Homo sapiens: one gene and its partner. The protein of the gene in region 1 binds, or shares a complex with, the protein of each later gene. Each region holds a gene or a part of one and is shown on either strand. Other genes may lie near its edges. The genes, in order: SPTLC1 and SPTSSA.

The links.
Region 2: SPTLC1 (region 1) and SPTSSA share a complex: the UniProt entries of both Homo sapiens proteins name them as parts of the serine palmitoyltransferase (SPT) complex.

The regions. Positions count from the first base shown.
Region 1 is NC_000009.12:92,030,544-92,035,598, reverse strand, and holds the end of SPTLC1 (serine palmitoyltransferase 1), read left to right. Parts: intron 1-715; coding exon 716-789; intron 790-3,040; coding exon 3,041-3,134; coding exon of another isoform or gene 3,135-3,286; 3' UTR 3,287-4,452; downstream 4,453-5,055. UniProt on the Homo sapiens protein: Component of the serine palmitoyltransferase multisubunit enzyme (SPT) that catalyzes the initial and rate-limiting step in sphingolipid biosynthesis by condensing L-serine and activated acyl-CoA (most commonly palmitoyl-CoA) to form long-chain bases.
Region 2 is NC_000014.9:34,458,956-34,466,325, forward strand, and holds the start of SPTSSA (serine palmitoyltransferase small subunit A), read right to left. Parts: upstream 3,286-7,370; 5' UTR 3,253-3,285; coding exon 3,141-3,252; intron 1-3,140. UniProt on the Homo sapiens protein: Component of the serine palmitoyltransferase multisubunit enzyme (SPT) that catalyzes the initial and rate-limiting step in sphingolipid biosynthesis by condensing L-serine and activated acyl-CoA (most commonly palmitoyl-CoA) to form long-chain bases.

The DNA of each region.
Region 1 (5,055 bases):
TCAGCAGGTTGTGCAACCATTACTATCTCATTCCAAAACTTTTTCATCACTCCAGAAAGAAACCCCTGTAGCCTATTACCTTGCTCTGGTGTTTGTGCTTTCTTTATTTTAGTAGAGATTGTTTTCATTTTTTCTTAATGTTGACAGATGGTTAATATATAGGAAAGCTGGGTAAAACTTTGTTAACGCCAGATTCTGCAGTGCCCAGTGGCACCATGCCCAGATGCCACATGTGGACATCGTTTTTGCTAATATCTGAAGTGCAGTGGTTTTTCTCTGACGCAGTTCTACTGGTGGTGGTGGTCATAAGTCCAGCCTGCAGGACTTTGCTCGCACCACTTCCTCATGTGCTAACTCTGCTTTGTCTAAATGGTAGTCACTAGCTAGCTATGGCTGTTTGAATTTAAACTAAGTGGAAATAAGAAAAGGTGCAACTGTGACCTCTCAGTAGCACCAGCCATATCTCCGTGTGCTCAGCAGGCACACAGGGCTCATGGCGACTGCTGGGCACTACACAACAGAGGTATTTGTCATTGCAGAAAGTTCTGTGGACAGTGCTGCCAAGGTGGTGGTGTAGTATTTTGGTGATATCTTCTAGCAATTATAATTGGAAAAGTGAATTAAAGCTACCGTTGCAGGATTTCAGCGTTCCCCCAGTTTAATTACCACCATGTCTGAAGTCCAGGTTGCAGATGTCTTCTTTTTCTTCCTACAGTGCATGAACAGAAGTATTGCATTAACTCAGGCGCGCTACTTGGAGAAAGAAGAGAAGTGTCTCCCTCCTCCCAGGTCAGTTGACGTTAAAATATGACCTTATTTTTTTCCCCTACTCTGAGCTCTATGAAATACGTTATCTTTTGAAAAATTTTGAAAGACTATCATAGGCTATGGAAGAATATCTGTCATTAAAATATAGTACATTACCTGTCTTCTGCTCTTAAACTAGAAGTTTCTAAAATTTTAACTGAAAAGCTCCCAAGGACTCACTGAGTACCCTCTCAGTTAACTCAGAGAAATGTCTGGGAGCCCAGCAATGAACTTGGGCAAACTGAGTTTCCATCAGCTCATATCTGCCACATCTGAAAGGTGGCACATGCCACACCAGGAGTTCCTGCCACAAGGACCGTCCTGCAGGGAAGATCGGCAGTGTGGGGTGGGGGTGGGCATGCGCCTCTGCTGCTCCTTCAGTCAGCAACACTCAGTAACATTTGAGAAAAAACAAGCAACAGTGGGGAAAATGTACAGCATCAAGAAAAAACACCAAAAGTGAAAGACTAATGTCTTACTTTTAAGGAGACTGGATTCTGTTCACAAAGCATATACGAGGTAGTCCAAGGAGTTGGCCATCCCACCACAGCACTGGGCCAGGCAGTCACAGCAGGGGGCATGGACATGGTCAGTTCTGCCCTGGGGCATTGCTCAGGCTTTTGAGAGCAGGCGATGTCTACACCAAAACTAGAGAAGTGTGTGTGTCGGGCATCCTGTGGGCATCGTGGCTTTCCATCAGATGAGGTGGTGTGTGCTTTGCTCAGGGTTTTCAGTGGCTTGGAGACCTCCAGGTTCATCTGGGAGTACAGAGTGCAAGCCGCAGAAGAGCTGGAGAGAAGGGTCCTGAGGCCAGGTGCCAAGTCAGGGAGGCTGCAGGAGAGCCCACTGGGGAGTTTGAATGCTCTGCCGGCCCACAGTGCCAGACCAGGATTTGGAAGATCACTCTGGTAGCAGCTCAAAGCACCTTAAGGAGCCTGCCCTTTTCAGCCAGGTGCAGTGGCCCACACCTGTAACCTCAACACCTGGGAGACCGAGGTGGGCAGATCACTTGAGCCCAGGAGTACAAGACCAGCCTGGGCAACATGGTGAAACCCCATCTCTGTAAAAATTAGCCAGGCATAGTGGTGCACGCCTGTGGTCCCAGCTACTTGGGAGGCTGAGGTGGGAAAATCACCTGGTTCCAGGAGGTCAAGGCTGCAGTGAGCTGAGATCACTCCATTGCACTCCAGCCTGGGCTGCCCCCTTCATTTTTTATTGCACTCATCCAAAGGTGTAATCCTACATCCTACGTTTACTTGTTAGTAAGACCGTAGGTGCATGAGGACGGGAGCCGTGCTGGTTTTGTGCCCTCAGGACTCCATGCACAGCATAGTACAGCTCAATAAATATGTGTCAAATGCATGAAACAGATGTTTACAGATGAACTCTGGGGGACAGAGGTAGCATTGTCCTTTCAAGCTATTATTTCTTTGATTTCCTGAAAACTTGAAAATTTCTGCCATGCCTTAGAGTATTACAGAGCTTTCACATTGCTATTGACATAAATACGAACAATCAAACTGTCGTTGATTTGAGAAGGATGGAATTCCTGCTTTGTGCCTGGCACTGCCTGAAGCAGTACATGATGGACAGGATGCTATTTCCCAGCTTCTGAGGCAGAGCCCACGGAAACTCACTCTGACTGGGTGTGCACTGGTGTGGTGTAGGCCGAGGCCTTCAGGCTGCAGATTCCCTGCCGCAGCAACCCACCTGCCACAGTAGTGAGAAAGTGACTGTGGGCAGCAGGTACATGAATAGACAGGCCTATTGGGAGGACTGCCAGGAGAGGTTTGTTTACAAAAATAGGCAGTGGATTTGGCTCTCAGGCCATATATGGTTGACTGTGAGTGCAGTTCCTCACCTCACATAGATAATTCTTTTTTCTGTTTGTTTGTTTTTGGTTTTTTTTTTTTTTTGAGACAGAGTCTCACTCTGTTGCCCAGGCTGGAGTGCAATGGCGCGATCTCGGCTCACTGCTAGCTCCGCCTCCCAGGTTCACGCCATTCTCCTGCCTCAGCCTCCCAAGTAGCTGGGACTACAGGCACCCGCCACCACACTGGCTAATTTTTTGGTATTTTTAGCAGAGATGGGGTTTCACTGTGTTAGCCAGGATGGTCTCGATCTCCTGACCTCGTGATCCACCTGCCTTGGCCTCCAAAGTGCTGGGATTACAGGCGTGAGCCACTGCGCCTGGCCCACAAAGATAATTCTTTGTGTCCTTTACTGTTCTCAGCATTCGGGTTGTGGTCACGGTGGAACAAACAGAGGAAGAACTGGAGAGAGCTGCGTCCACCATCAAGGAGGTAGCCCAGGCCGTCCTGCTCTAGGCAGAGTCCCGGGACCATGGCCTCCTGCCACACAACACGCAGAGAGGACTCAAGACTCCCGCTGGCCATGGAGTGGCCTGAAAGAGAGCAAGAACATGTGGATCTTTGATAGGATTGTTACCAAATGGTGTCAGTATGGACCAATTGTGTGACCATGAGAAGGATGCTTATTTTTTTTAAAAAGAAAACACATCTAAAAGCCCAGGAACTGATTTTTTTAAGAGGAAAACTAATGACAGTGTATAACTGATGTTTAAATTGTGCATTTAGTACTATTTAAATGTTTTCTTATACTAGTATTTTATATTCTTTTGTTGTCGTTTAAAACTGGAGCTTCAGTGTCTCTTCCCTCCCTCTAATAGTAATGGTTCAGTAAGCACTCCTTAACTCCTTAGTATTTCATAGAAAAATGACTGCAACATTAAAGCTAAGAGGAACACTTCAACATATGTGGTACAAATTTATATTGAAGATCTAAATAAACCACGTATTTTCCAGTCTTCGTTGTGTGAAGCTAAATGGTGGCTAAAAGGAACACTTTTTGTGTGATTATTATAAACTTTGCATTGTATTTGAATCTTAGAACTTTTGTACACACTAAATATTGATGTCACACCATTTCTAATCTGAGCATCCTTAGCCAGAGAATATTCATTATACTTCCTAAGTGAGCAATAATTTAAATCAGAAGCTATTTTATTTTAATGTAATTAACCTTTCTTTACATTTCTTATGTGTTCACCTCTAATCTGTTTTAGGAAGAGAGTTGGTTATTATGTTGATCCCATAATATAAATCATATCCTTTATATTTTAGAATATCTCAAATGTATTCCTTTTTTGTATGGTGGGTTTGCCTAGGGACGTGTAACTACAGGCTTTTACTAAGCCAAGGAAAAAGAGAATTTTTCTTTTCATCTTACAAATTCCAGATATCTACAAAAGATGTGAAAGCACTAAAAATACCATTTTTAAGCAGTACTTTACCTGTTTTTTCTTTAGCAAACCAGGTTATGTGGTGTAAAGGTTTGTTATACGTGCCACAATATAGCATATAAATATTATGCCATCATTCCTTCTCTTGTTAAAGGTAGAAGAATAAAATTGTGATTTTTATAACCTGTGCTTATTACTCAAATGGTCTTCAACATCTTTTTAAACAACACATACTTTTTGAATGTTCAGTTTCTATTTTGCTTGAGGTATTTTGTACATATGTGCCTTGTGATTGCTGCTGCTTTAAAGGATAAAGTACTCTTTGGGGGATGAGTCTGGTTTGTTTTGTTTTATTTTTTAATGAAATAAACCTATATTCCTGATTATTAGTCTATTTGCATATGTAATATATCCAACAGAATAGTCTCTTAATTTTAACTTTTTTGCACTGGGGTAGTATTCTTTGTTGTTTGGTCTTATTTTAGAAAATAACAATTAAATTTCTTAGTTCCTTTTTTCACATCCAACCAAAGAATATATAGTATCTGAAGTTTCCTAGGTTCTTGCTGACCTCATAGGACTACAAAAATATCATGGCCATTATTTTCATAAATAACTGTTCAGCTTCTTTTAGAATACTTTCTAAGTGAAAATAGCAACATCAAAATAATGTTTGTAATAAACTTTTTGAAAATATGATCAGGAGTTTCTGGGAAAGATGGCGGATCAGGCACATTATTTCAGTCCTTAAAACCAACATTGTAAACGAAAGGAACCAAAAGTAAAATTTTTGTGTTAAAATTATAGAGTGACCACAATCCAGTAATATACACCACGATGAAATGTCTACTAGAAACAGTAAAATTTGGATCAAACTGAAGCAAAATGCTGAGAAAGTACAGTCATCTCAAATCTGGACCAAGTTACAAATTCCTCTTTTACAGAGTGAGAAGTTTCCAGAGTGCTCTACCAATGATCTGTGTTTT
Region 2 (7,370 bases), on another chromosome or scaffold:
GTGCAGTGGCGTGATCTCGGCTCACTGCAACCTCCGCCTCCCGGGTTCAAGCGATTCTCCTGCCTCAGCCTCCCGACTAGTGGGATTTCAGGCGTCCACCACCACACTCGGCCCACAACTTCAAATTTTTAAAAATGCATTATATAGCAGGAAATGTAAACTAATGCATCTATCCTCTTTAAGAAATTAATCTGGGCCAGGCGCGGTGGCTCACACCTGTAATCCCAGCACTTTTGGGAGGCCAAGGCAGGCGGATCACTTGAGGTCAGGAGTTTGAGACCAGACTGGCCAACATGGTAAAACCACCCCACCCCCACCCCACCCCCAACTCCGCCTCTATTAAAAATACAAAAATTAGCTGGGCGTGGTGGTGGGCACCTGTAATCCCAGCTACCTCAGAAGGCTGAGGCAGGAGAATCGCTTGAATCCGGGATGCAAAGTTGCAGTGAGCCAAGATTGCACCACCACACTCCAGCCTCGGCAACAGAGCGAGACACCGTCTCAAAAAAAAAAAAAGAAAAAGAAAAAGAAGAAAATTAATCTGGCCAGGCGTGGTAGCTCATGCCTGTAATCCCAGCATTTTGGGAGGCTGCAGTGGGCAGATCACTTGAGGTCAGGAGTTCGAGACCAGCCTGGCCAACATGGCGAAACCCCATCTCTACTAAAAATACAAAAATTAGCCAGGCGTGGTGGCAGGCACCTGTAATCCCGGCTATTCTGGAGGCTGAGGCAGGAGAATCGCTTGAACCTGGGAGGCGGAGGTTGCAGTGAGCCAAGATGGCGACATTACACTCCAGCCGGGCAACAAGAACAAAACACTGTCTCACACACACACACACAAAGAAAAGAAATCAATCTGAAGTCTTCCTCTGTTCAGGACTTCTAACTCAGAGACAAATTTTCAGACAGGCAGAGGCAAATTTCTCTAAATTTTAGGTTTCTAGGATTGATGATTAAGTTGAATGTAATGTTTAAGCTGTAGAAAGTATGCCTCTTTCCAAAAGCCTGTAGCTGGCCACAGATTAGTTCTGGGTGAAGCTTACTAATCATTAATGGATTTATGAAATTCAAACTACTTCAGAGTAAGCCTCCTGACAAGTAGGGAAAAAAATCCAGTTTTCTCATTCAGTTCTTTCCACCAAGCTAAAATGAGGATTCAATCTCAAATTGATGTTCCAAACTATCAGATAGTTTTAAATGATTCTAGAAGTTGAAGTGGAAAAATATAAATACAACAGCTGATAGTAATTCAAGACTGGCTTATGTCAAACAATTGCATTTCTAACCTGAGTTAATTCAATAACGTGAAATTTGAAATAAGATTTTTTTATCTTAAGTTTAAAATCATAAGGTTCTATAATATTGGATGTCAGTTGGTTGCAGTTCTCACCTATTTGAAAAAAAAATTGAAACTACTTGTCGCTAAACCATGGTAACTCAAAAACATTAAAGGCAAATATCTACTAAGGCACTATATTTCATTTCATAATTTATTTCTCCATCCCCCAAAAAAGGCATCACCTAGTTATTTATAGGACACTATCACTATTGCAACATAACAGAAAAATCTTAACATCATTGATAACTGTAGCATTTTAGTGTGTAAAATCTATATTAGATTTTAGGTGTCAAATCTATACTAGATTCTAATAGTGCACTCTACATTCAACCTCTGATTTAAAGAGTTTCATTTTAACCCAGCATTGTTTAAATTAATTTTAGGATGTGTTATGTCAGTCAAGATATACTTGCTTCTACTGAGAGACTTCTATTAAATATGCATTCAAGTATATATTTTACAAGGCATGACCTTGCGAGCCCTAAAGAGTGAGACTAAACTGCAGCTACAAATAAATGGTGCAGGAAATCAAAGCAAACTATATTCAGAGTCTAAATCCAAAATATGCATTCTGGTTCTTAAATTCCAGGTTTGGAAAGAAATGCCAACAGTAATAAATAAATAAACTGCTTTGAAAGCATCTCAAATTCCTCAAAAGTGCTTAAACAAAAGACTCAGCTTTGAGTACAACCTTAAGCTATCTCAAAACAAATAAACACACTTGATAAGGCTTAGAATGAAATTACCTCAGTCACTCACTGGAATGCAACAATGCATTCGCAAAGTTATTCTGAAGTAAGCTACTCCAACTAAACCACACTGAAAAGGAGAGAACGTGGATAAACTAAACATGTTTTGTGAAATACCTGTTTTGTATTGGCCTGAGTTTTTTAAAAGTTACATCTCATTCATTATCAGTATTTAATCTGCAAGAATATCATCAAAGGATGTCAATATGGACAAGCAGAGACAAGAAACATCAGACTTTCAGGGAGCCTATCTTCACAACCCTGAGTTATTAACTGAAGTTCTCAAAGTTAGATGAGTTAAGATACAGACAACGTGCTTTGCACAAATGCTTTGCTTATAGTAACCACTCAATAGTCATTAACAAGAATTTATTAACTATCCACCAAAACACAGTTTCAAACCCTACCGACAACTAACCACAAATTGCACCACTTTTCGGGCCGACTTCTACGGACGGTGCACAGAAGCAATAAATACACTTTTAAAACTCCCCAACTTGAAGACCAAAAAGATACAATAACTTAAACTGCTTTCAAAAACTACTGGAGTGTCATGCCTACAAATTCAGAACCTGGCTTAAAAGCTAGTTAACTGACTAGAATTCTTGGTAGACCCAAAGCCAACTAAATCAGGAACACTTAAAGGTCAAAGGCGTCCAAGCCGGGAGCGATGTGCTCCACTGTTACATGATCCCCGCCTCCTACAGGAACAGGGGACTGAACCAAAGGCAGTTGCGGCCGAAGTGCAGGCGACACACAGGGTTACACATCACCTTCGGAGATTTCCTCCAGGAATCAAGACGCTTCCCCCTTGGGTCCAGCGACTCACAGGTGACCCCGGATCTCAAGAGTTCTCGTCTCCCCCACCCCCCACTTAACCCCGCGAGCGCCGCCCTCGGCCCCCAGACCTCCCCCTGCACCCCCGGCTTCCGCGCACAGGACCGGCGGGGCCGCCGCTCCAGCCTCCACCCCAGGCCCGGGGCCTGGGGAAATGCGGCCCCGCGGCCCGCGCCCCCAGCCCGGCCCCCGCGCGCGCGGCCGGGACAGGATACTGAACACCGTCCGCTCCCAGGGCTCCAGCATGTAGAGCGCCGTGACCAGCAGGTACTGGTAGTAGAACCAGGACATCTGCTTCCAGGCCCGCGCCAGCGCCATCCCCGCCATGCGCCTCCCGCGATGCAGCTCACACGTCAGTCTGTCCGGCCGGCCGCCCGCTCACGTCCTAAAGCCCCCGGCCGCCAGGCCCGCCCGCCCGCCACCCAGCGCCCATTGGCCCGCCCGGCCCCGCCGTCACCCGCGGCACGCCCAGACCCGCGCGCGCCCCGGCCGCCGGCCCCCAGCCCCGCCCGACCCGCGCTCATTGGCCAGGCCGCTACCTCGCGTCGCGTCGTCCCCTCCCGTTTCCCCGCCCGGGCATCGCCCACGCTAGCCGGAGAACGGTCCCCGCGAGAGCGCCCAGCCGCGCCCCACCCCGCCCGGGCCGGCCGGTGGTGGGCGGGGCGTCAGTGCCGGCCGGGGTCCCGGGGCCCCCGCAGCCCAGCGGGCGCTCGGTCCGTCCAGACTGGCCCAGAGCGCTTGCGGAAGAAATATTTCTGGAACACTTGTTATGCCTCAGGCATCCTTCTGAGAAGGAGGATTGCCAGGGAGAACCGGAATGCCTTCGGTTCCTTACCTTGTGCAGCTGGCGGCCTAGCTGGGAGACAAGCATTAATCAAGTCGTGATCCGTGTAAGAGGAGATAAGGGGCTGAGAGAGGGTGAGGAGGCGAACGCCACCTAATAAGGAGGTCTGGAAAGGCGTCCTTGTAGAAGGGATGCACATTCGGCCTCCTTCCTCCCTTCCCCCACCCATGCACACACACACACACACACACACACACACACACACACACACACACACCCCTAGACGGACATAACCCATGCACTCCCTAACCCAGAGACCACTTACCAAAAACATCTATCTGCCCACCTCTTAGTGGCTGTAGGTAACCACCAAGTGGGTCAAGGCCAGAAGCGCGCTGATCTAGTGGGTTCTGCAGAAGACAGGCAGCTTGAGATTGGTGTGAGGGCTGGTGATACTTCCCTAGAGATGCACTCCTGGATGCCCAGATTTTCCCACTGCCAGATGGGCCAGCAACATTGCACTGGCCACAAGGAGCTCCATGCACTGGTGTAGCATGTGAACTGCCACAATTAAATGGCCTGCTGTTTAAATGTTAAAAGTCTTCCAGGTTAAACATACTACTGCTTAAACTTTAAAAGTTTCATGGTTAATAACTATTCATTAAAAGTACCAAGTGCCGGCCAAGCGCCGTAGCTCATGCCTGTAATCCAAGCACTTTGGGAGGCTGAGGCTGGCGGATCACTTGAGTCCAGAAGGTCGAGACCAGCCTGAGCAACATGGTGAAACCCCGTCTCTACCAAAAAAAATAAGTAAATACATAACAAAAAGTTAGCCAGGGGTGGTGGCGTGCACCTGTAGTCCCAGCTACTCAGGAGGTTGAGGCGGGAGGATTGCTCGAGCACGGGAGGTCGAGGTTGCAGTGAGCCAGGATGGTGCCACTGCACTCCATCTTAGGTGGCAGAGCAAAAGAAAGGAAAGAAAGGAGACAGAGAAAGAGAGGAGAAAACAGAAGAGAAGAGAAGAAAAGAAAGAAAACAGTAAGTAATATCAAGTGCCAGACATTGGGATAGCAAGCCAGATAGACTGAGACCTGCCTTCATAAAGTACCCAGTCTGCTGGGGAAGAGAGGCAAGTTAATGGATTACAGTGAGGTGTGGTAAATGATATTTTTGTGGATCGTATCCTTTAGGATACCAAGATAGCCCAGACAAAATCAGATTGGGCTTGTGAAAGTCTTCTGAGAAATGGTGCTTGAACTGAGTGTTGAAGGACAAGCAGAAATGGAAGAATGAATGAGCTTGGGGAAGAGAGGGTGAGACAGACATTCTAAGGATGAAGTTGTGATGTTTTTAGAAGACTGGAAGAACTTCCATGTGGCTGGAGCAAAAAGAATGTATATGCAGTAGCAAGAGATGGGCCTAGACAGCAAACAGGGACCATATTCTGAAGGACCTTGTTTGAGAAGCTAAGAAATTTTTAACTTGATGTCCAAAAGTTACTGGAGCCAACAACTTAAATAAGATTTTCTTTCAGGGCTGGGTGTGGTGGCTCACACCTATAATCCCAGCACTTTGGGAGTCCAAGGCGGGTGGATCACATGAGGTCAGGAGTTCCAGACCAGCCTGGCCAACATGGTGAAACCCCGTCTCTACTAAAAATATAAAAAATTAGCCGGGCGTGATGGTGGGTGCCTGTAATCCCAACTATTTGGGAGGCTGAGGCAGGAGAATCGCTTGAACCCGGGAGGCGGAGGTCGTAGTGAGCTGAGATCACACCATTGCACTCCAGCCTGGGCAACAAGAGCAAGACTCCGTTTAAAAAAAAAAAATGCTTTCGGAACAAGACTTGGGTGTGGGTAGTAGCCTGGAGGCTACCGAGGGAAAAAACAGGTTGGGAAGACATTACAAAGGTAGAACCCACAAATACTTGAAACCTCCTTACCCCTCAGAGATGCAGGTACACGTGCCCTCCTACTTTCAAACTTAACTGTTTTGGACTTCTTTCTGTCCCTGTTCCTGTTCAGGCACAGGCAAGCTCATTCCTTTTTCCTCGAGAACTCCAACTACCCTCAGCATCTGGTGATGCTACATAAAATTCATCCAAGATTGGAAGCATCACCCGTAGCCACCCTTCCTTTACTGGGTCCACTCCCTAGCACCATGTCTGCCAGGTGGTTGTCCTCACTGTTAGTAGCTCCCAATCCACTGCGTGTCTCTCGGAGACCAGCTCTACCACCTCATCTCACTAAAGTTGGTGACTGACTAGAAATGAGGAAAAGAGGCTGAGATCCTGGATGATGACAATACAAAGAAACCGAAGGAAGACGTTTGGCTGAAAAGATATTGATTTTGTTAGGATGAAGCTATGTCTGAGGTACCTGAGGGACACTTAAATGGAGGTGTCCAGGGGACAATTGAGCACATGGTTTGGAACTCAGAAGTGAAGCCTGAATGGAACTAGAGGCATATGAATTTTCAATATGTCCCTGGTCATTGAAGCCAGAAGAGCAGATGAGGTCACCCAAGGAAAGCACATAGAATGGGAAGAGCAGGGTACAGAATAAACCCAGAGATTCTGGCATTTGGCCAATGAGAGTCCAAAGGAAGCCAATACAGGGAAGGAGCTACCTGAGATTTGACAGCAATGAGGAGAGACATACAGGAGAAGCTAATGGAGGAAGGGATAGCCAGCAGAACAAATGGCTCAGGGAGGATAAGCAAAATAAGGAAGGGAAGCGCCAATTTGTTTTGTCCACATGGGGCTAGATTGATGACTCAGCATTTCATTGTGGAATGATGATAGGACAGAAGCCGGATTATAGAAGGCTGAGGAGAGAACAGGAAGTAAAACAATGAGGACAGTTAATTCAGGCTTAGTTTTGCAGGAAGCTTGCCTGTGAAGGGAAGGAGATAGAATGGTGGCAAGGGTTTCAGTTTGGTTTCATTTTCAGATGGGAAAGGAGTAAGCAAGTTTATGGGCTTAGAGTAAAGATATGGATAAAGATGGTGGGCTGGGGGACCAGATCCAAAGCCTTAATAAACAGGAACTGGTAGCTCTTTCCCCAAGAGGAGGAGGATGGAAAGATGGGAGCCAGATGGACATAAACACAGACAAGTAAGTTAAGGAACTCCCTACCTTACAACATCAGTTTTCTTAGTGAAAAAATAAAGGCCTCTTGTTGAGAGTGAGCAAGATGTTGAAGAGTGGAGGGTATGAAAAAGAAAAAGGGAGATGGGAGAAGTTTCCTAAAGCTGCCTAAGGATTGTCAGGCAGAAAAACCATACAGTTTTTACCAACAATACACAAGTACCGAGTATATATAGAACTAGAGAAGTTGAATTAGGAGACTTCCTCCAAGGCAGGGTTTGCTGGATGGATACAATGGAGAAACAAGCAAGAAGGTTGATGGAGAGAGAATAATTGAAATAATGACTAGGAGAATTAGGTCACGGAGGGAAGTAAATGATGAAAAGATAAAATGGAGTAGTCCAGAGCTGTGTGAGGTTGGAAACTGTAGGAGTAGGTGCATGGGAAAGAGTCTATGTTGGAGGAGGAGGGCCACGGCTGTGCTTCTGAAGCTTAGGAGTACAGAAATAGGCCAGTCTTAGACAATGACCAGGCACAGGTTGTGACCATGGGATAGGCAGCTAAAGTGGAGTG